4 linked regions of the Homo sapiens genome follow. The protein of the gene in region 1 interacts with the protein of each later gene in a pairwise test. Each region holds a gene or a part of one and is shown in the gene's direction. Other genes may lie near its edges.

What was found.
Region 2: the proteins of UBE2U (region 1) and TRIM34 interact in a two-hybrid assay, tested with the Homo sapiens proteins (one large-scale study listed by BioGRID and IntAct).
Region 3: the proteins of UBE2U (region 1) and TRAIP interact in a two-hybrid assay, tested with the Homo sapiens proteins (one large-scale study listed by BioGRID and IntAct).
Region 4: the proteins of UBE2U (region 1) and BFAR interact in a two-hybrid assay, tested with the Homo sapiens proteins (one large-scale study listed by BioGRID and IntAct).

Annotation. Positions count from the first base shown.
Region 1 is NC_000001.11:64,209,311-64,214,490, forward strand, and holds part of UBE2U (ubiquitin-conjugating enzyme E2 U), read left to right. Parts: intron 1-1,431; coding exon 1,432-1,529; intron 1,530-5,180. UniProt on the Homo sapiens protein: Catalyzes the covalent attachment of ubiquitin to other proteins.
Region 2 is NC_000011.10:5,634,089-5,639,268, forward strand, and holds part of TRIM34 (E3 ubiquitin-protein ligase TRIM34), read left to right. Parts: intron 1-542; coding exon 543-773; intron 774-5,180. Other genes in the region: TRIM6-TRIM34 (tripartite motif-containing 6 and tripartite motif-containing 34), read left to right, coding at 543-773.
Region 3 is NC_000003.12:49,845,797-49,850,976, reverse strand, and holds part of TRAIP (E3 ubiquitin-protein ligase TRAIP), read left to right. Parts: intron 1-2,776; coding exon 2,777-2,834; intron 2,835-3,368; coding exon 3,369-3,452; intron 3,453-5,180. UniProt on the Homo sapiens protein: E3 ubiquitin ligase required to protect genome stability in response to replication stress.
Region 4 is NC_000016.10:14,663,039-14,667,611, forward strand, and holds part of BFAR (bifunctional apoptosis regulator), read left to right. Parts: intron 1-1,830; coding exon 1,831-2,033; intron 2,034-4,573. UniProt on the Homo sapiens protein: Membrane-bound E3 ubiquitin ligase that plays a role in several processes including apoptosis regulation or reticulum endoplasmic stress. Has anti-apoptotic activity, both for apoptosis triggered via death-receptors and via mitochondrial factors.

The DNA of each region.
Region 1 (5,180 bases):
TGACTGCTCTTTTTTTTTCCCCCATCACTCCTCCTAGAAGTCACTTATCTGATTAGGGAGATGAAGGAAAGAATTGAGCATATGTGGCCCAGAACTTGCTCAACACTCTCTCCTTCTGACCATACTGGGTATAGTCTCTTTTGCTCCAGGCAGGAAACTTAGGCAGGCCTTCGGTTTGGGAGTTAAGTTTAAATCAGGGGGACTTTTGTGGAGCCTGATTAAAGCCATTCATCAAGTGCGTTCTCCATTTCAGTCTTATGTGCAATGAAGCTGATGTTTTTACTTCCACCTTTCAATACTTTGATCTATTTTATAATTACATATGAACTTGAGGGGAGAGAAGGGTTATTTACTAGCTTTCAACCCCCGCCCCCGCCCGCCCCGCAAAAGATGGCTATGTACAGTTTTAAGTCTTTATATAAAAAGCCAAATTGCCTTTCGGTGGTATTTGTACTCCTACCAAAAAGTACATATAAAGTTCTTATTTTAGCACCTTCCAATTCTGGCCATTGAAACTTTGAAGAAAATTTTTTTGCCAATTTGGTAAGAGTCTTGCTATTATTTTAATAAGCACTTCTTTGAATACTTGAGAAGTAAACATTTCCCACCTTTGTTGATTCTTATTTTGTGACTCGTATGATACAATTGACAGTGCTATCACATTGTCCTAGATGTTGCAAATATTTCCTCTAATTTGTCATTAATTTTCAACTTTGTTTATGCTGTTTTTTCACATCTGGGATTTAGAGATTTTTATGATTTAAAATAAATTTATATTTAAGATCTATTAATCTTGTCCTTTGAGGCTTTTGCAGTTGTCTTTCATCTTAGATGATCCTTTCCCAAAAGAAAATCAAATAGTCATTTTAAGTTTCTTCTAGTCATTCTACAGTTTTATTTTTCTTATTTAACTCTATTATTTTTTCAAACACTAAATTACTTAACTGTGTTAGGGCATATGCCAAGCTCCTGTACATCTTTCCAACTTAACATAACAGGACAACGCTGGAGGGAGGTTGTGCCCATCCTCAATGTGAAGATTCCATTTCTGGGACTAAGGCATTTACTGTTTGTCACCATTTCCAGTCTGGGGGAAGGGGGAAGAAAAGAAGGAAAGCCAGCTTCCTTTAAAAAAAGACTCAGAAATTGCACACTTATCCTTATGTCCCACAACAAAAACTTAGTCACAAGGCCACATCTTGCTAAAGGAGAGGATAGGAAAAACTGTAGGGGCACCTATGTATTCAGCTAAAACAACATGGTAATGGGTGGGAACCAGGGATGGGTATAGTGCTTCTCAGTACAGAGAGAAGAACTAGGAAAAAGGAAGAGTAAATGCAGATAATTTTTCTGGCTTATCATTTTGATGTTTGTAAGTTTTAAATAATAATTTATTATAAATGCAAATATTAATGTATTATTTTAATACAGTAGACCCACACACTGGTCAGCCCTGTATAGACTTTTTGGACAACCCTGAGAAGTGGAATACAAACTATACATTGAGCAGCATCTTACTTGCCCTACAGGTAAGAATGGATTTCATATAATCCTCTCTTTAATACTTTTAATTACCCTAATTATTCAAACTACAAGGATTAAAATATACAATGCATATTTAAGTGTTTAAAGAATTTGAGAAGTTTATTTAAATCCATACTTCTATATGAAGGCTACAAAGTGGAACTTACTTAAATTATAAAAACTATTATTTAAAGTGAAATTGATAGTTAAGGCCCCTCAAGACCAAAGAATGCATATCTTATAAAAGAATAAAATAATTATTTAGATGGTTTCAATTCTGAAAATATAACCTTAGGTTTTCTTTTGGTTCCTAACTTCACTTCCTGATGTTGAGCAAGCCTTTTAGATCTTTCTTCATTTATGGACCTTGCCTTCCTGAGAGAGGTGGATCGAATGACTACAACTTAAAATGTTCACTTTTGTTTTTTGTTTCTGACAGTGCTAGTTAGCTACTTTCTGTCCCAATAGTGTTCACATCAAACCCAGTGAACAATTTATACCAAGGATTTTCTCCTCTCCTCAGATGCCTGTTTCTCAGATGCCACCTTTACCCACTGGACCCATGGTCCTTAGAAGCATACCTCAGTGTTGTGCTATTTCTTTTCTTTTCTTTTTTTCTTTTTGAGACAGGATCTTGCTCTGTCACCCAGGCTAGAGTGCAACGGCACAATCCTGGCTCACTGCAGCCTCAACCTCCTGGGCTCAAGTGATCCTCCCACCTCAGCCCCTCAAGTAGCTGGGACCACCGGCATGCCCTACCATGGATGGCTAATTTTTTAAATTTTCTGTAGAGACGGGGTCTCACTATGTTGCTCAGGTTGGCCTCAAACTCCTGGGCTCAAGCAATCCTCCCACCTCAGCCTCCCAAAATGCTGGAATTACAGGCAAGAGCCACCACATCCACCCAGTGTTGTGTTATTTCTGGTCCTTAAAAATGCCTCCTTTCTCATCTAATGCTAAAATGAATTATTTCAGTGAACTTGCTTTGACCTCTTAGAGCTAGCTTAGCAATAATCTATCCATGACCTACTTATCACCAATAATATCTGAAGATAAATAATTACATTTTGATTATCTAGAATACTTGGAATATAAAATACTCTGGCATAATTGAGTTTTTAAATATAGAATTATAATATAAATTGCATTTCTTCTATTTCTTGTATTTGAAAATAAATAAAATAATACTTTCCTGGCTAGTCATCTTAGCATACTAAGTAAAATATAATCTTTAGGAAAGATTCAATGTTCAGTTCATTCATTCATTCTACAAATATGTATTGAGGATCTACTTGTGTGAGGTTGTGTTCTAGGAAGGAGACATTTGAGCAAAAAATTTAAGGGAGTGAGTGAGTGTGATATGCAGAAATCTGGGGTTAATCCTTTGGATTCCTTTAAACTGAGACATATTCTGATCTCATCCACCTAAACTAGAGTCTGCCCTAAGAATAGCAAAATGATCCCAAAATGTAATGAGTAAGGGCAAACCAGAATGAACTGGTGAAAATTTTGAATTGCAGAATAATTTGATAAAAGGAAAATGTGGGGCTCTGAGTTAGCTTGCTTGGCTTCACATCCTGGTTCTGCCACTTGATACCTTTGTATCTATCATTGGACAAATTTTTCCACTTCTCAATGTCTCAATTTCTTCATCAGTAAAATGGGGCTGTTGTTACCTCATGTAACCTGTGAGGAGGAAATTAATTAATGTGTGTAAAGAATTCGGAACTGTGCCTGGTCCAAGAAAATAACTCAATAGTTAATACAGGTCGAGTATTTCTTATCTGAAATGCTTAGGAATTGGAAATTTTTCCAATTTTTGAATATTTGCATTACATATACTTACCATTTGAGCATCCCAAATTTGAAAATTTGAAATCTGAAATACTCCAGTGAGCATTTCCTTTGCACATCATGTCGGTCCTCAAAAAGTTTTGAATTCTGGGGTATTTAGGATTTCAGATTTTCAGATTTAGGATGCTGAACCTCTAGTTAGTTAACATTATGATTGTTCTTACTATTAAAGAGTAATGCAAAGTGACACCAAAGTGTTGCCAAATATATCATGGAAAGCCAGTAGATAACACAATTTTGTCTTTTTATTTTTCGAAAACATTAATAAAACAAATATGCCCACATTACAAAAGATTTTTAAGATAATGGGAAGGAAAAGAAAATCACTGACAATTATAAAGAAAACCCTTAACTTTACTGTTACTAGGAAAGAGCTTTCTGCTCTTTTCTCCTGTTTTTCAGTTTAAAATCTTTCAGTGGATCCCACCTTCTCCACAGGTGTAAGCTCTAGTTCTGTTGCATATCTAATCCTCACACCTAGACTCTCCCTAACACACCAGGCAATCCTGCTCATACTTATATCTTCATGCTTTTCTGCACTCACATTGCTTGGGTCAATTCAGATAAAAAAAACATTCATAGAGTTCTAAAGTTACCTTAGAAATGGTCAGTCTCCAGTTCCCCTCTGCCTGGCAACTCATTTTCTCCTCTTCTCTTCCTCAGTCTGTCCAGCAAGCAGTTGTTCATGTTGTTGTAAGAGTTGGAACAAATGAATCGTCCTCTAGGATACCTTTTCTGATTTATTTTCCTAGGGAGAATTAATAGCTTTGGTTTTGGGGGAGCTTCCTTTGCTACACACCCAACAGTACCCTGAGCAGATTTCTGTTAGAACACTAATACTATAAAGCACACACTGCTTACTTATCTGTCTTCCCCTATTGGACTGCAAGCTCCCCAAAATCAGGAAACAGGTCTAATTCATCCTTGATTTCCTGGAGCATACCAAAGACAATGCTGACATTTGGTAGATATTAAATAAAATGAATGAATGAATGAACCTGAATTTTTACATTATTGCTATTATGGTATGTATATTGCCATGTGCTTAGCAACAAGGATACATTCTGAGAAATGAGTTGTTACACATTTCATCGTTGTTTGAAAATCATGGAGCGTACTTACACAAACCAAGATGGTATAGCTTAATACATACGAAGGCTATGTTATAGCCTGTTGCTCCTAGGCTACAAACCTATACAACATGTTACTGTACTAAACACTATAGGCCATTGTAACACAATGGTAAATATTTGTGTATCTAAATATAGAAAAAGTACAGTAAAAATTTGGTATTATTATCTTATGGGACCACCATGATATATGCCGTCTGTTGTTGAGTGAAACATTGTTATGTGGCACGTGAGTATGTAAACTATACAGCCTGTTTCTTTTTCACTTAACATTGTCTCTCAAGTAACTTCCATATGGTTATAATCAATATTTTAATAGCTATTCAGTATTCCTTTGAAGGTCAGTGCTGCGCAGTAGCACTTTCTGCATTGATGGAAATGTCCAATATATCTCACCGTTCAATACAGTACCTACTAGTCATATGTGGCTACTGAGCACTTGAAATGTTACCACTGTGACTAGGGAGCTGAATTTTTAATTTTATTTAATTTTAATTATTTTAAATGTAAATAACCACCTGTGACTGTGCCTACAGTGATGGGCAATACAAGTTGAGACCATAATGACTAACTACTTCTTTCTTGATAACAAATTAGATACATTTTCAATTATCACACTGTTATTCAAGGGAAGTGTACTTGAAATGTTGGTTAAAATATTTTGAATTTTAA
Region 2 (5,180 bases), on another chromosome or scaffold:
TGGAACTGAGCACAAAGATAGACTCTATGATGAGGAAGGCTAGCAAATACTGTGTTCCATTGCTCTTTTCCAACGGGGCTCTACTACTTCTGGTGGAAGACACTACATAAAGGACTATGGTTTTCCTCAAGATTCAAATTAGGAGTGTGGTAAGGCAGGCAGTCATGAATATCCAGGAAAGCTATCTAGAAGCTAAGCCTTATGTTTTATATTTTGTCTCAGGGTTGGCCTAGATAAGACAGTTTGAGGTCATTGTTTTGGTAGGTACTGAAAGGAAAATAGTAGGAAAAAATAGCTTCCCTCCAAGTACCTCTATTGCTTCTACTCCCTTGCTGATTTGAACTCCCTGAAAAAAAAAATCGATATATAGATAATACAAATATATATATACAGATAATATAAATACACACACACACACACACACACACACACACACACACACATATATATATATATATATTTCCCTACTGGCTCCTAATCCCTTGCACAATAGGCCTTAGCCTGACAAACTTACTACAACTCTCTCTTGTCCATCCTTGCAGTATCAGGTACAAACTGAGAGACAAAGGATACAAACAGAATTTGATCAGCTTAGAAGCATCCTAAATAATGAGGAGCAGAGAGAGCTGCAAAGATTGGAAGAAGAAGAAAAGAAGACGCTGGATAAGTTTGCAGAGGCTGAGGATGAGCTAGTTCAGCAGAAGCAGTTGGTGAGAGAGCTCATCTCAGATGTGGAGTGTCGGAGTCAGTGGTCAACAATGGAGCTGCTGCAGGTAAGAAGGTTCGCTCAATCTGAGATTCTGGGAACACAGTTCCCTCCTGTGTCCTTGCGTTCTCATCCTGGTGGTGACACTAAGGGGTTTCTTTGGCCTTGCAGTGCCGCCTTGTCGTCCATTCTAGATGTCATGGACATGAATGACATTTTTATTAATTTATGAAGTAAGGGAATACATTTTACCTTGCAGAAAAGATCCATTATATCTAGTTATAGTCTCTAGGCCCCTATTATATGTGATCTAGTGTCAAGCATTCATCAGACTTCTCTTTACTCTGGTTAGTCACAGGTAAACACATGCATTTTCAGGTTTAAGAGCATACACATTTAAGAAATGTGTTCTATTTAAGTTTAAAATATGCTTATTTGTTATGCAAATGTTCCCTGTTAATTTTTTTTTTTTTTTTTTTGAGACGGAGTCTCGCTCTGTCTCCCAGGCTGGAGTGCAGTGGTGCGATCTCGGCTCACTGCAAGCTCCGCCTCCCAGGTTCACGCCATTCTCCTGCCCAGCATCCCGAGTAGCTGGGACTACAGGCACCCACCACCACGTCTGGCTAATTTTTTTTGTATTTTTAGTAAACATGGGGTTTCACCGTGCTAGCCAGTATGGTATTAATCTCCTGACCTCGTGGTCCGCCTGCCTCGGCCTTCCAAAATGCTGGGATTACAGGCCTGACCCACCGCACCCAGCCCCCTGTTACTTTTTTTTAAACATAAAGTGATAGAATATTGAGCCTTTTGGGGAGAAAGATGGACAAATATATAGACAGACAGTGCTCTCCTTTCTTTGCTGAATTTCCAAATATTTCCTTTTTAAGATTTGGAACGAAGCAGGAGAGTAACTGATTTTCATTTGTTGAATTGTTTGCTTTGTCTCTGGTGCTTATATCCCAGCTTTTTTTAAATTCCTTTTTCCTTTTGTCTTCTTTTTTTGTTTAAATTTAAGATTACTCTGGAACAGAGGTTCCTAAACGTATTTTACACTCATTAGTATGGCTATAATAAAAAAAGATGGACAATACCAAGTGTTTGGGAAGATGTGAAGAAATTGAAACCTTCTTGAATTGCTAGTAGAGATGTAAAATAGTAAAGCTACTTAGGAAAAACTGCTTGGCAGTTGCTCAGAAATGTAAAGAGAGTTCTCATGTGGCCTAGCCATTCCATTCCTACCTATATACCTAGAAGAACTGAATACATATATTTGTGCATAAACTTATATATGAAAGTTCACAGCAGTATTGTTCATAAATAAAACAACTCGTATCTCCTTAAACTGATGATTGGATAAGCAAAATGTGTTATATCCAAACAATGTAATATTGTTTAGCTGTGAAAAATAATGAATTAATAATACATGCTATGACATGGATGCACCTTGAAAACATTATAATTGAAAGAAGGCAAACACAAGTTCTTTTTTGTATGATTCCATTTATATGAAAGTCTGTAAGTAGCAAATCCGTAATATAGAAACTAGATTAGTGGTTGCCAGAGCTCTGGGGAAGAATAGGAAGTAATTGCTAATTAGTGTACAATTTCTATTTGTAGTGATGAAAATGATCTGGATTTACTGTGCAATGACGGTTGCACTACATCGTGAATATTTTAAAGCCTGTTAAATTGTGCACTGTAAAGGGCAAATCTTATGGTATTTGAACTACATCTCAGTAAAAACAAAAACAAAAAGGTTCCGTAGGCCCTTTTTTATGGTTCTTCCTTAAGCTCTTCACAACCCTTTGAATCGCCACCTTCACAAAAGAACACTGTGTTTATGTCATTTGTCCAGGCATTTGTCCTATTTCAGTCAGTCTTAGTTGCTATTTGGTCACTTGGAATTTAAAAAAATATTGGTAGATCAAAAATTATAAATGCTGTGGGATTAACATTTCACTTCTAGATGTTAGCTTCAAAGAATGGCAAATGGAAAACTTAGGAACTTATTCTTTTATCTGAGTAGGGACTTTGGCTATTCCTCTCCAATATGTTAAGATATAATCTGTTGGCGGGGCGCGGTGGCTCACGCCTGTAATCCCAGCACTTTGGGAGGCCGAGGTGGGTGGATCACGAGGTCAGGAGATCGAGATCATCCTGGCTAACACAGTGAAACCCCGTCTCTACTAAAAATACAAAAAATTAGCCGGGCATTTTATAATATACAAAAAATTAGCTGGTGATGGCGGCTGCCTGTAGTCCCAGCTACTCAGGAGGCTGAGGCAGGAGAATGGTGTGAACCCAGGAGGCGGAGCTTGCAGTGAGCCAAGATGGCGCCACTGCACTCCAGCCTGGGCGACAGAGCGAGACTCAGTCTAAAAAAAAAAGATATGTGCTGTTGTATTTGTGGTATGTCTCCTCCACAATCCCATCTCCTGAGAGTCCCTGTAACAGCTTTCTTTCTATATGGATTCTCATGATGGCGATCGGGATGGATGGTGTTATCATATATCCATTGTTTGTTTGCTAGAGGGACTGATACTCATTTCGTAAGAGCTGCATTCAACACTTACTGCCAAAGAACGATCTAGACAGAAAGACGCTCAACTTGAAAACTGATGCAAAAATTAGATGAGATTTTAGGTTGTTTCCCTTATAAAGGAGATACTTTGATTTTTAATGCTTTCTGTAATAGTTTTATTATATTTGGCCATTTTTATTTTTGAAAGGATGGAATGGTAGGTAGCTAAATGAGGGAAAGAAGATGGCAGTTACTATTATTTAAAATTTTTTTTCCAGGTTTCTTAAAATTTTAGATTCAGGGGGCACATTCAATTCCATGGCATTTAGTACATTCAGATTGCTGTGCAACCATTAAGTGGGATCCCTCTCTGGACTTTTTCACCATCCCAAACTGAAACTGTACCCATTAAAAAACAGCTCCCCATTCCCTTTGGTCACCACTGCTCTACTTTGATAACCACTATTCTACTTTCTGTCTCTATGACTTTGCCTATTCTAAGTACCTCATGTAAGTGGAATCATAGAATATTTGTCCTACAGGTTTCTTATAAGGGTCTGTTGCATAATGCTAGGGTTTGGGCTACATGGTACTCATTATTTTTGTTTCGTCAATATCCATTCCCCATTTTTCTGGTAATAACACCTGGAATTACTCTTGCAAGAAAGACTAGCATGTCTATTTCCATCCTTGTACTTGTTTAGACCTGAGAAAATCAGCACTATCAAGAATGAATGAGTTAATTATATGTAAATCAGCGTATCCAATCCTTACATCCCTACCAGCCACACAGTGATTATTTTAAGTTGGACATCTGACCCAATCCTGAATGCTTGTGGGTGACAAAATTGTACTGTCATTGCAGTGAAGGGAAGTTCTCCTTTTTAGCAGAAAATAATATCAGTGAAGATAATTCAAATAAAGAGATTCAAGTTGCTATCAACTAAAATCTGAGAATACAGTCAAAATATAGGGAAGAAATGAGAATTAATAGGCACAGAGAGGCCAGAATTGTGACAGAGGTTTGAGCTTCCAGAGCCATCTGTGACTAAAGTAATACCTCTCTGGCCACAACCCTTACTTTCTTCCCAGTTAAGGCAATTTTAGTTGTTGAACAACAAAACTATGCTAATACAGAGAGCAAAACCATTTATTTGGTTGTACACCAGCTGGTGTCATGAAAGAGTTAAAGCCAAATATATTGGTACATCTTGCTCAAAACAAATTAACCCACAGTGGTGATGATGGGGGAATGCAGATGACTAACAGAAGTTAAGGATGGACTGGCTTGATAAAATGTTTTAGTGTCTGGGACAGGGACTGAGTGAATATTGATACCAGTTTGACAATACGGCATAAGAAAGGAAACAATATGGCTGGAGAACAGCTTATGTTTTAGATATTCTTAGTTACTGGTGCCGTTTTTTCTTCTTTGTGGAATGTAGTATTGTACCTGTACAGAATGAAGTCTAGCTGCTTTTTTTCACAGTCCAATGAGATGCAGACAGACTTGGAAAAGAAGGGAGTTTATTTTTGCAACTGGTTACAGGGAGAAGGTCAGAGTAACTATCAGACCAACTCAGAGTTACAAAGTTTTTTTTTTCTGGTGCTTATATACATTTTAAGCTCTATGCCTTCACGTGGGAGTGCACCTACATGCAGGAGTGTTTCAATCTATATCTATCTTTAACTAGGGTCTGGGGTCTAGAAAGCTTTCTCTAGAGTCTTGGAAAGTTTCTTAATCTTAAATGGGCCCTGGTACAAGTTGTATGTCTAAGAATGCTTTTATTATTCGATCAGACTTTAAGGTATGAGAAAACCCAGGCAGGGTCTTTAAAGGGTTTGTTTTCACATTTCAGCCCTGGTACTCACTCAGGCACCAGCTTTTCCAGTTCTTTAATGTTTAACTTACGCATTCATCAAAATTATAGTAAAGGGTTAAGGGAAACTGAT
Region 3 (5,180 bases), on another chromosome or scaffold:
AAAAAAGAAAACAGGAAAACGCAGGCTATTGGCCGGGCATGGTGGCTCATGCCTGTAATCCCAGCATTTTGGGAGTCCGAGGCGGGTGGATCAGGAGTTTGAGAGCAGCCTGGCCAACATGGTGAAACCCTGTCTCTACTAAAAAAATATAAAAATGAGCTGGGCATGGTGGCGTGCACCCGTAACCCCAGCTACTCGGGAGGCTGAGGCAGGAGAATTGCTTGAACCTGGGAGGTGGAGGTTGCAGTGAGCCGAGATCGTGCCACTGAACTCCAGCCTGGCTGACAGAGCAAGACTCTGTCTCAAAAAAAAAAAAAAAAAAAAAATGCAGACTATTATCAGCTCTAGAAACCTTCTAGAAACCTCCTTATATGCTCTTCCAACCCCTACCAACACCTCCCTCCACCTCCCCATATTAAGATAGCTACTGTCTTGACTTTGAGAGCATAGATGAATTTTGCCTACTTTTTTTTTTTTTGAGACAGAGTCTCACTATGTCCCTCACGCTGGAGTGCAGTGGCGTGATCTCGGCTCACTGCAACCTCCACCTCCCAGGTTCAAACGATTCTTCTGCCTTAGTCTCCCAAGTAGCTGGGATTACAGGCGTGCGCCACCACACCCGGCTAATTTTTCTATTTTTAGTAGAGACGGGGTTTCACCATGTTGGTCAGGCTGGTCTCAAACTTCTGACCTGATGATCCACCCGCCTCGACCTCCCAAAGTGCTGGGATTACAGACGTGAGCCACTGGGCCTGGCCTGCCTACTTTTAAACTGTGTAAATAGAATCATACAAAATATAACTTTTTGTATCTGGCTTCTCTTCCTCAGTGTTATGTTTTTGTGATTTATTCATAATATTGTTCTTAGCTGTAGACTCATTTATTCTTGCTGTGTAGTATTCCACTGCGCCTGGTTACTCTTGATTATATGTTGTACATGGTATTTGAAAACTTATGGGAATTTTAGCTGGGCATGGTGGTGCACGCCTGTGGTCCCAGCTACTCGGGAGGCTGAGGTGGGAGGATTGCTCGAGCCTGGGAGGCGAAGGTTGCAGTAAGCCAAGATCACACCACTGCGCTCCAGCCTGGGTGACAGATTGAGACCCCATCTCAAAAAAAAAAAAAAAAAAAAAAAAGAAAAGAAAAGAAAATGTACTTATAGGAATCTTTGAGGCCAGGATGATGGTATCATTTTCCAGAGAGGACTTAGTTTCTCCCTGGTCCCTAGGAGTAGGGGAGTCTACTAGTAGGAGACTAATTAAAGTTTAAGGCTTGAGCTTTGCTGGACCACCTGCATAGATGATGCAAAGCTCAGCTGTGTTTTGCTTTTACCACTACTTACTTTTTTTTTTGAGATGGAGTCTCGCTCTGTCGCCCAGGCTGGAGTGTAGTGGCACAATCTCAGCTCACTGCAATCTCCGCCTCCCAGGTTCACACCATTCTCCTGCCTCAGCCTCCCGAGTAGCTGGGACTACAGGTGCCTGCCACCACGTCCGGCTAATGTTTTGTATTTTTAGTAGAGATGGAGTTTCACCATGTTAGTCAGGATGGTCTCAATCTCCTGACCTTGTGATCTGCCCGCCTCGGCCTCCCAAAGTGCTGGGATTACAGGCGTGAGCCACTGCGCCCGGCCACTCTTTTTTTTTTTTAATTAAAAAAATTTTTTTGATTGGGCACAGTGGCTTATACCAATAGTTCCAGCACTTTGGGAGGCTGAGGTGGGAGGAGCACTTAAGCTCAGGAGTTGAGACCAGCTTGGGCAGCACAGTGAGACCCTGCCTCTATTCTGTAAAAAACAAAAAAACAAAAAATTTAATTTAAAAAAATTTTATGGCTGGGTATGGTGGCTCATACCTGTAATCCCAGCACTTTGGGAGGCTGAGGCAGGTGGATCACTTGAGGTCAGGAGTTCAAGACCAGCCTGGCCAACATGGTGAAACCCTGTCTCTACTAAAAACAAAAATTAGCTGGGCGTGGTCGCGCATGCCTGTAATCCCAGCTACCTGGGAGGCTGAGGTAGGAGAATCGTTTGAACCAAGGAGGCGGAGTTTGCAGTGAACCAAGATCGTGCCACTGCACTCCAGCCTGGGCGACAGAGCAAGACTCCACCTCAAAAAAAAAAAAAAAGTTATGAGTACATAGTAGGTATACATATTTATTGGGTTTATGAGATATTTTGATGCAGGGATACACTGTAATAATCACTTCAGGGTAAACAGAGTAGCCATCACCTCAAGCATTTATCATTTTTTTGTGTTACAAACATTCCTATTCTTTTAGTTACTTTAAAATGTACAGTAGATTATTGTTGACTGTAGTCACTCTGTTGTGCTATCAAATACTAGATTTTATTCCTTATATCTAACTTTATTTTTGTACCCTTACTTACTTTTATTTCTGGTTGATCCTTACCTTGAAAGTGTAGTCTTTGGGATTCCAGCTTAAAATGGGGGTGTTATCAGAGTCCTCATCTCTGAGGGCCCCTGAGCTTCGACTATCATCTCTCCCAACCCCAGTCAAAGCCCAGAATGTTGCCTAAAGGACAGCTTTTGGCCAAGCCAACAGGGCCAAAAAAAGGGCCAGCTGGTTGGAGTCCTGAGTACCCATCAGGCCTTGCGGGAGGTGCTGTAACTGCCTATGCTACTGTCCTCTTATTTGGGCAGGCATTGGGTCAAGGAGGAGCAGAACAGACCCTTTCGTGGTCAGAATGTTTGCCTGGCTTATGTCCCCAGACAAACCAGGGCTCATCAGTCTATTGTTCTGCTTTTCATTCCAGCCTAATTCAGTGGTTTGAGACAGCACCAAGTCGGACCTGCCCACAGTGCCGAATCCAGGTGAGAGTATTGGGGTGGGACCACCTCAACTGAAGAGATCTCCTTAGCAGAGAGCAGGAATGTGAAAAGAGCTCTGAAACTGCAATATCTCTGACCTTTTTTGGACCCTCCTGGTTTAAGGCCAGTTGAGCCTCACTTGTGCCCTTGAGTGTTTGGGAGGTCTGCTTACACCCACAGGTAGCTGGCAGATGGACTTGTTGCCTGGGCCAGTTTTCACTTGGGTAGATTTGGCTGGCCTCCTTCCCTGTCTTTTCATCAGTGACTCCGCACCTAGAGTTCAGGTATCTTTTGAGCACTTAACCGTGTAGGTCTGTAGTAATATGACTTCAGTGACCACGAAACCAGCAGCCCCAACTTGGGGTACCTGCAGGAGTAAAGAGGTCTTTTGACTCTAAAGGATGTACTTTGAAAAATTAGGTCTGAGAACAGGCCTGACATGCATGTCAGGCAGGTAGTCAGACCCATGTACAACACTCTCCTCCTTGCGCATGACCCAGCTACACAATCATACTCTTACCTTGTTCTCCCATCCAGGTTGGCAAAAGAACCATTATCAATAAGCTCTTCTTTGATCTTGCCCAGGAGGAGGAGAATGTCTTGGATGCAGAATTCTTAAAGGTACCCAGAATTTATCTGATTCTACTGAACTCCAAGCCTTGTGCGAGTTCACTTTTCTTTTTTCTTTTCTTTTCTTTTTTCTCTTCTCTTCTCTTCTCTTCTCTTTTCTCTTTTCTTTTCTTTTCTTTTCTTTTCTTTTTTTAGAGACAGGGTCTTACTTTGTTGCCCACACTGGAGTGCAGTGGTGCAATCATAGCTCACTATAACCTCAAACTCCTGAGTTCAAGGGATCTCCCCACCTCAGCCTACCTAGTAGCTAGGACTGTAGGGGTGCACCACCATGCTCGGTTAATTTTTTTATTTTATTTATTTATTTATTTATTTATTTATTTATTTATTTATTTTGAGATGAAGTCTCACTCTGTCACCCAGGCTGGAGTGTAGTGGCGTGATCTTGGCTCACTGCAACCTCTGCCTCCTAGGTTAAAACAATTCTCCTGCTTCAGCCTCCCGAGTAGCTGGGACTACAGGCACGTGCCACCATACCCGGCTAGTTTTGTGTTTTTAGTACAGACGGGGTTTCACCTTGTTGGCCAGGCTGGTCTCGAACTCCTGACCTGAAGTGATCCACCCACCTCGGCCTCCCAAAGTGCTGAGATTGCAGGCGTGGGCCACCGTGCCCAGCCCTAATTTATAAAAAAAAATTTTTATAGAGATAGGGCCTTGCTATGTTACCCAGGCTGGTCTTGAACTCTTGGGCTCGAGCAATCCTCCCACCTTGGCCTCCCAAAGGGCTGAGATTACAGGCATGAGCCACTGTGCCTGGCCTGGGAGTTCACTTTCTATTTCCACATAAGTGGAGGGTTCCTGGAATATGGAGATGAAGTTATAGAGGTGAGACTTGGTACAGTTTTCAAGGTGGGGACACAAAAATCAGAGGACAACTGATGAGACACAGTCATCAGAGAAATGCACTGTGAGGGAAGAGGGGAGCTGCTTGACTGTAAACCCTCCCTTTGGGATTTCAGGTCAATTCCAACCTGAATTCTCTCCTGCGGTCTTGTCTCCTCATCTTTTAAAGAACCTACAGCCATCCTGTACAGCCTACTTTGCTGCTTGGACAGTTAGTGACAGATTAGAAAACTCTTCTACTCCCCAGCCACGGGAGATTTTTGGATTCAGTGTTCCCTAGCCTGCCTGTGCCTCAAAATTGCCTGGGGAGGCTGGGCGTGATGGCTCACACCTGTAATCCCAGCACTTTGGGTGACCAAGGTGGGCAGATCACTTGAGCCCAGGAGTTCAAGACCAGCCTGAGCAACATGGGACCCCATCTCTATTAAATAAAAAAAGTTAAAAGAAAAAAAATTGCCTAGGGAGCTTGGTATAAAGTCAGATGCCTGGGCCTTCCCCAGACCAGAGCTCTTGGAATCAAGAGTTGCAGCTCAGGTGGGAATGGATATATTAGGGGAAAGTGGGTAGTTTCCCTCCTATACGTCTAACTGCTTCCCCTCCTAATCTAAAATTTAGCTTTTTTTGTGTGCAAGCAGGCTGCGTTGGCAGAGAACTCTTGAGGAAGTTGGATTTGGGTTCACAAATGATCCCTGGACTCTGAGGGTTAATTTGCTGGATATCTGTCAGATCAGAGTTCATTTGGCTCTGGCCCCAGGGTGTCATGATGTCCTTGGAACCTCACTGCTTCAGGAACATGGAGCTTTTGTGCTTAGAGCAAGCATGTTCATCGTCATGGTAACTGCTCCCAGTTTTAAGTAGTGTCTTCCCTGTGATGAA
Region 4 (4,573 bases), on another chromosome or scaffold:
TACAATGTCTGGAATCTATAGATAACATAACTGGTTAGGTCAGGGGTCGATCTTTAACTACCAGGCCCAGAGCGCAGCGCCGGGCTGTCTGCCTGTGGATTTCATTTCTGCCTTTTAGTTTTTACTTCTTTCTTTGGAGGCAGAAATTGGGCATAAGACAACATGAGGGGTGGTCTCCTCCCTTACTCCCACCTTGCCCTCCCAAAGTGTTGGGATTAGAGGCGTGAGCCACTGCACCTGGCACCCAGCCCTTCAATTTTAACGAGCTCCAACAGCCTCTGCCTGTTCATCAGGCTAATTTTTTTTTTTTTGAGACAGAGTCTCGCCCTGTCGCCCAGGCTGGAGTGCAGTGGCGCAATCTTGGCTCACTGCAACCTCCATCTCCCGGGTTCATGCCATTCTCCTGCCTCAGCCTCCTGAGTAGCTGGGACTACAGGCGCCCGCCACCACACCCGGCTAATTTTTTGTGTTTTTAGTAGAGATGGGGTTTCACTGTGTCAGCCAGGATGGTCTTGATCTCCTGACCTCGTAATCCGCCCTCCTCAGCCTCCCAAAGTGCTGGGATTACAGGCGTGAGCCACTGTACCTGGCCATCATCAGGCTAATTTTTTATCTGCTAATATGTGTAATTGAAAAGCTTCTCCTCCTGCCATCACAAAAAAAATTACCTTTTTTTGGAGGGAGGAGGGAGTGTTTGTAATTTTCCCAGAAACTACCATTATTCTACCATAGCCAATGTTGAATTTAGGAAATGGTTCAAGCTACCATTTGGGTAGCTTGATGGGAGAATAACTGGTTAATTTAAATTTATTTCAATGTATTCATAATTCATGCTTTTTTTTTTCTGAGCTTCCACAATTATATGACAAGCATTTCATTTCAACCTTTTTGCTAACATTTACTTAATTTGAGATTAATTACGGCCGGGTGCGGTGGTTCACTCCTATAATCCAAGCACTTTGGGAGGCAGAGGCGGGCAAATCACCTGAGGTCAGGAGTTTCAAGACCAGCCTGGCCAACATGGCAAAACCTCGTCTCTACTAAAAATACAAAAATTAGCCGGGCGTGGTGGTATACACCTTTAATCCCAGAAGCACTGTCTGTGTCTTGGATGGTAGCGAGACAAGATGGTGGATCCCCAGACTCAGGGCTTGTATACATAGGGAAGGGGCATACATGCTTCAGAAGGGATGTGCAGAACAATTGCTTAGGGTCGGGATTTATGGTAAGTACGAGAACATACTCAGGAGGCTGAGACAGGAGAATCACTTGAACCCAGGAGGTGGAGGCTGCAGTGAGCCGAGATGGCACCACTGCATTCCAGCCTGGGTAACAGATCAAGACTCCGTCTCAAAAAAAAAAAAAAAAAAAACAATTACAAGATGAGTTGATGGATGGAAATTTCATTTTAGATTGTTGGATGTGTGTGTGTGTGTGGTAATCAATGTAGAACTCACTGTGATCATCACAATTTTTTTTGAGACACAGTCTCCCTCTATCACCCAGGGTGAAGTGCAGTGGTGCGATCTCAACTCACTGCAACCTGCACATCCCGGGTTCAAGTGATTCTCTTGCCTCAGCCTCTAGAGTAGTTGGGATTACAGGCACACACCACCACGTCTGGCCAATTTTTGAATTTTTAGTAGAGATGGGGTTTCACCATGTTGGCCAGCCTGGTCTTGAACTCCTTACCTCAGGTGATCCGCCCACCTAGGCCTCCCAAAGTGGTGGGATTACAGGTGTGAGCCACCGTGCCTAGCCTGATCATCACAATATTTTGTGTAAAAGTCAGTCCTCATGACTTTTTGCGTCTGTGTGTTATTTTTTAAGGATCTTAAGGAGCCTACGTGGAAGCAGTGGAGAGAGTTCCTGGTCAAATACTCCTTCCTTCCATACCAGCTGATTGCTGAGTTTGCTTGGGACTGGTTGGAGGTCCATTACTGGACATCACGGTTTCTCATCATCAATGCTATGTTACTCTCAGTTCTGGAATTATTCTCCTTTTGGAGAATCTGGTCGAGAAGTGAACTGAAGTAAGTATGTTTTAATGGTTGTCACAACAGGGGATGGGAAAGAAATACCAAGTGAGAGAAAGATCCTCTTTTATTTCTCACACTTGAAATAAATCCTCCATCCACCCAGACCCTTCAGACTCTGCTTTGAGAAACCTAGCTTAAGCAGTGAATAGGACAATTACCTGTGTTTTGGGGGTGGGGGTTGTGGTGCTCATTGTTAAAAGTATTTTCCTATATGTCTTATCTCTATGCAATAATATACCATTTAATTTCAGGGGGAGGGGGGCAAAGGATTGTAATAATCAAGGAATAAGCAACTGAATAGAAAAGGGTCTGTTTTAAGGTAGGCAGGCCTGTGCAAACCTATCCCCTAAATCAGAGGAAGCTGAGGGGCTGAAGGAAGAAGCTGGCAAATTCAGTTTCTCAGAAAGAAACACTTAATAAGGCCTTGCCAACAGAAGCCCTGTCTGTGTCTTGGATGGTAGCGAGACAAGATGGTGGATCCCCAGACTCAGGGCTTGTATACATAGGGAAGGGGCATACATGCTTCAGAAGGGATGTGCAGAACAATTGCTTAGGGTCGGGATCTATGGTAAGTAAGAGAACATCAAGGCTGTTTCACCAAAGGGCAGGATTTACGTGATGTACGTGCTCTTACACAAGAAACATTAGATAAAACCAGAGATCTTAGAGGCTTCCCCCAAACCGGAGTTAGTGAGAAGTCAATATGGCAGATTAGCATCCAATATAGAGTTGCTTTGGCCTCCACAGGGTGCTTTATAGAAAATGCAGTAAGGTAGAGCATAAAGAGATCTCATGGGAAATTCTGTAGGCATGAGTTCTAATCCTGATCTGTAACCAACTAGGATAATAATAACTTAGGCTTCAAGCATGACTGGACCCTGAGACCCAAACGCTGTCACCAGTACTGACTCTTTCTCTGTCCCTCACAGCACTGTTCTTTCTTGTGTTTTCTGCCTCAGGCATCTCTCTTCATGTGGGGGCCCTTGTCTTCTCCACTCCAGACTTTGATCTGTGCAGCTTAACAAACCTCCAGAAAGAAAGCACTTCCTTCCCTGTGGCACTGGAAAAGGTCTCAGGGCTCACATGCCTTTGTTCTGATGGACCCAGGCTTGAGGCATGAGTTCACCCCACAACCAGAGGCTGGTTTCAGCCCTACCCAGACCACATGGAAAAGAACAAAGGAGAGAGAATCCCCAAAACTTAGAGGCTGTTGCCAGGTGCAGTGGTTCATGCCTGTAATCCTAGAACTTTGGGAGGCCAAGGCAGGTGGATCACCTGAGGTCAGGAGTTCGAGACCAGCCTGGCCAACATAGTGAAACCTCATCTCTACCAAAAATACAAAAATTAGCCAGGCGTGGCGGTGGGTGCCTGTAATCCCAGCTACTCGGGAGGCTGAGGCAGGAGGATCGCTTGAACTCAGAGAGGTGGAGGTTGCAGTGAGCTAAGATTGCACCATTGCACTCCACCCTGGGCGACAAAACGAGAGTCCATCTCAAAAAACCCCCAAAAACTTAGAAGCTATTTCCAGAAGAAAGGGACAGGCAGAAGTAACACTGCCACCCTTGCAGCCTTTTACCTTGACATTCTGACTCGCAGCCTTATGAATGGTTCTGAGAACCTAACAATCTCCCTCACCTTTCCAATGGTGACTCACTAGGTAAAAATAAAAAAAGAATCTCCCTCATTTCTTTCCATTTAGCAAACTCACTTATTTATATACAATATGCATATTTATGCCCCTACTGTACTCCTGGTTCTCTCCTGGGCATGGCAGATCTTTTGGTAAAGAAGACAGTCTATAGTGTGAGGCCCTACAGCCTAGCAAAGAAAATATGTACGTTAAAAAATAGATGGTCAGGCACCTTGGCTCATGCCTGTAATCCCAGCACTTTGGGAGGTGAGAGGATTGCTTGAGACCAGGAGTTCAAGTGCAGCCTGGGCAACGTGGCAAAACCTGTCTCTAAAAATACAAAAAATTAACTGGGCGTGGTGGTGCACACCTGTAGTCCCAGCTACTCGGGAGGTTGAGGTGGAGGATCACCTGAGCCGAGGAGTTTGAGACCAGCCTGGGTAACATAGCGAGACCTTGTCCCTACTTAAAATAATAATAATAATAATAATAATAATTAGCCAGATGTGGTGATGTGTGCCTGTGGTCCCAGCTACTCAGGAGGATCACTTGAGACCTGGAGGTCAAGGCTGCAGTTGAGCCACATTTGCACCACTGCACTCCCAGGCTGGACAAAGGAATGAGACCCTGTCTCAAAAGGAAAAAAAAATATGTAAATGTAACAAAGTGATGAAGCAGGTGAAGTTGAGGCTGTCACAGGGAGGCCTTGCCCAGTGTGGGGGCAAAGAAGCTCCCTGTAGGTCATGTCCTTGAGAGTTAAAAGATGGGTTGAGTAGGCAGAGGTCTCAGGCACCGGGGACAGAAGACAAGGACATTCAGCACGGGCAGCCATGCTCTTCCCAGCACCCAGAAAAGGCCCAGGGCCCGGACTCCTGGGTGTGGTCATGAGAAGCGCCTCCGATTC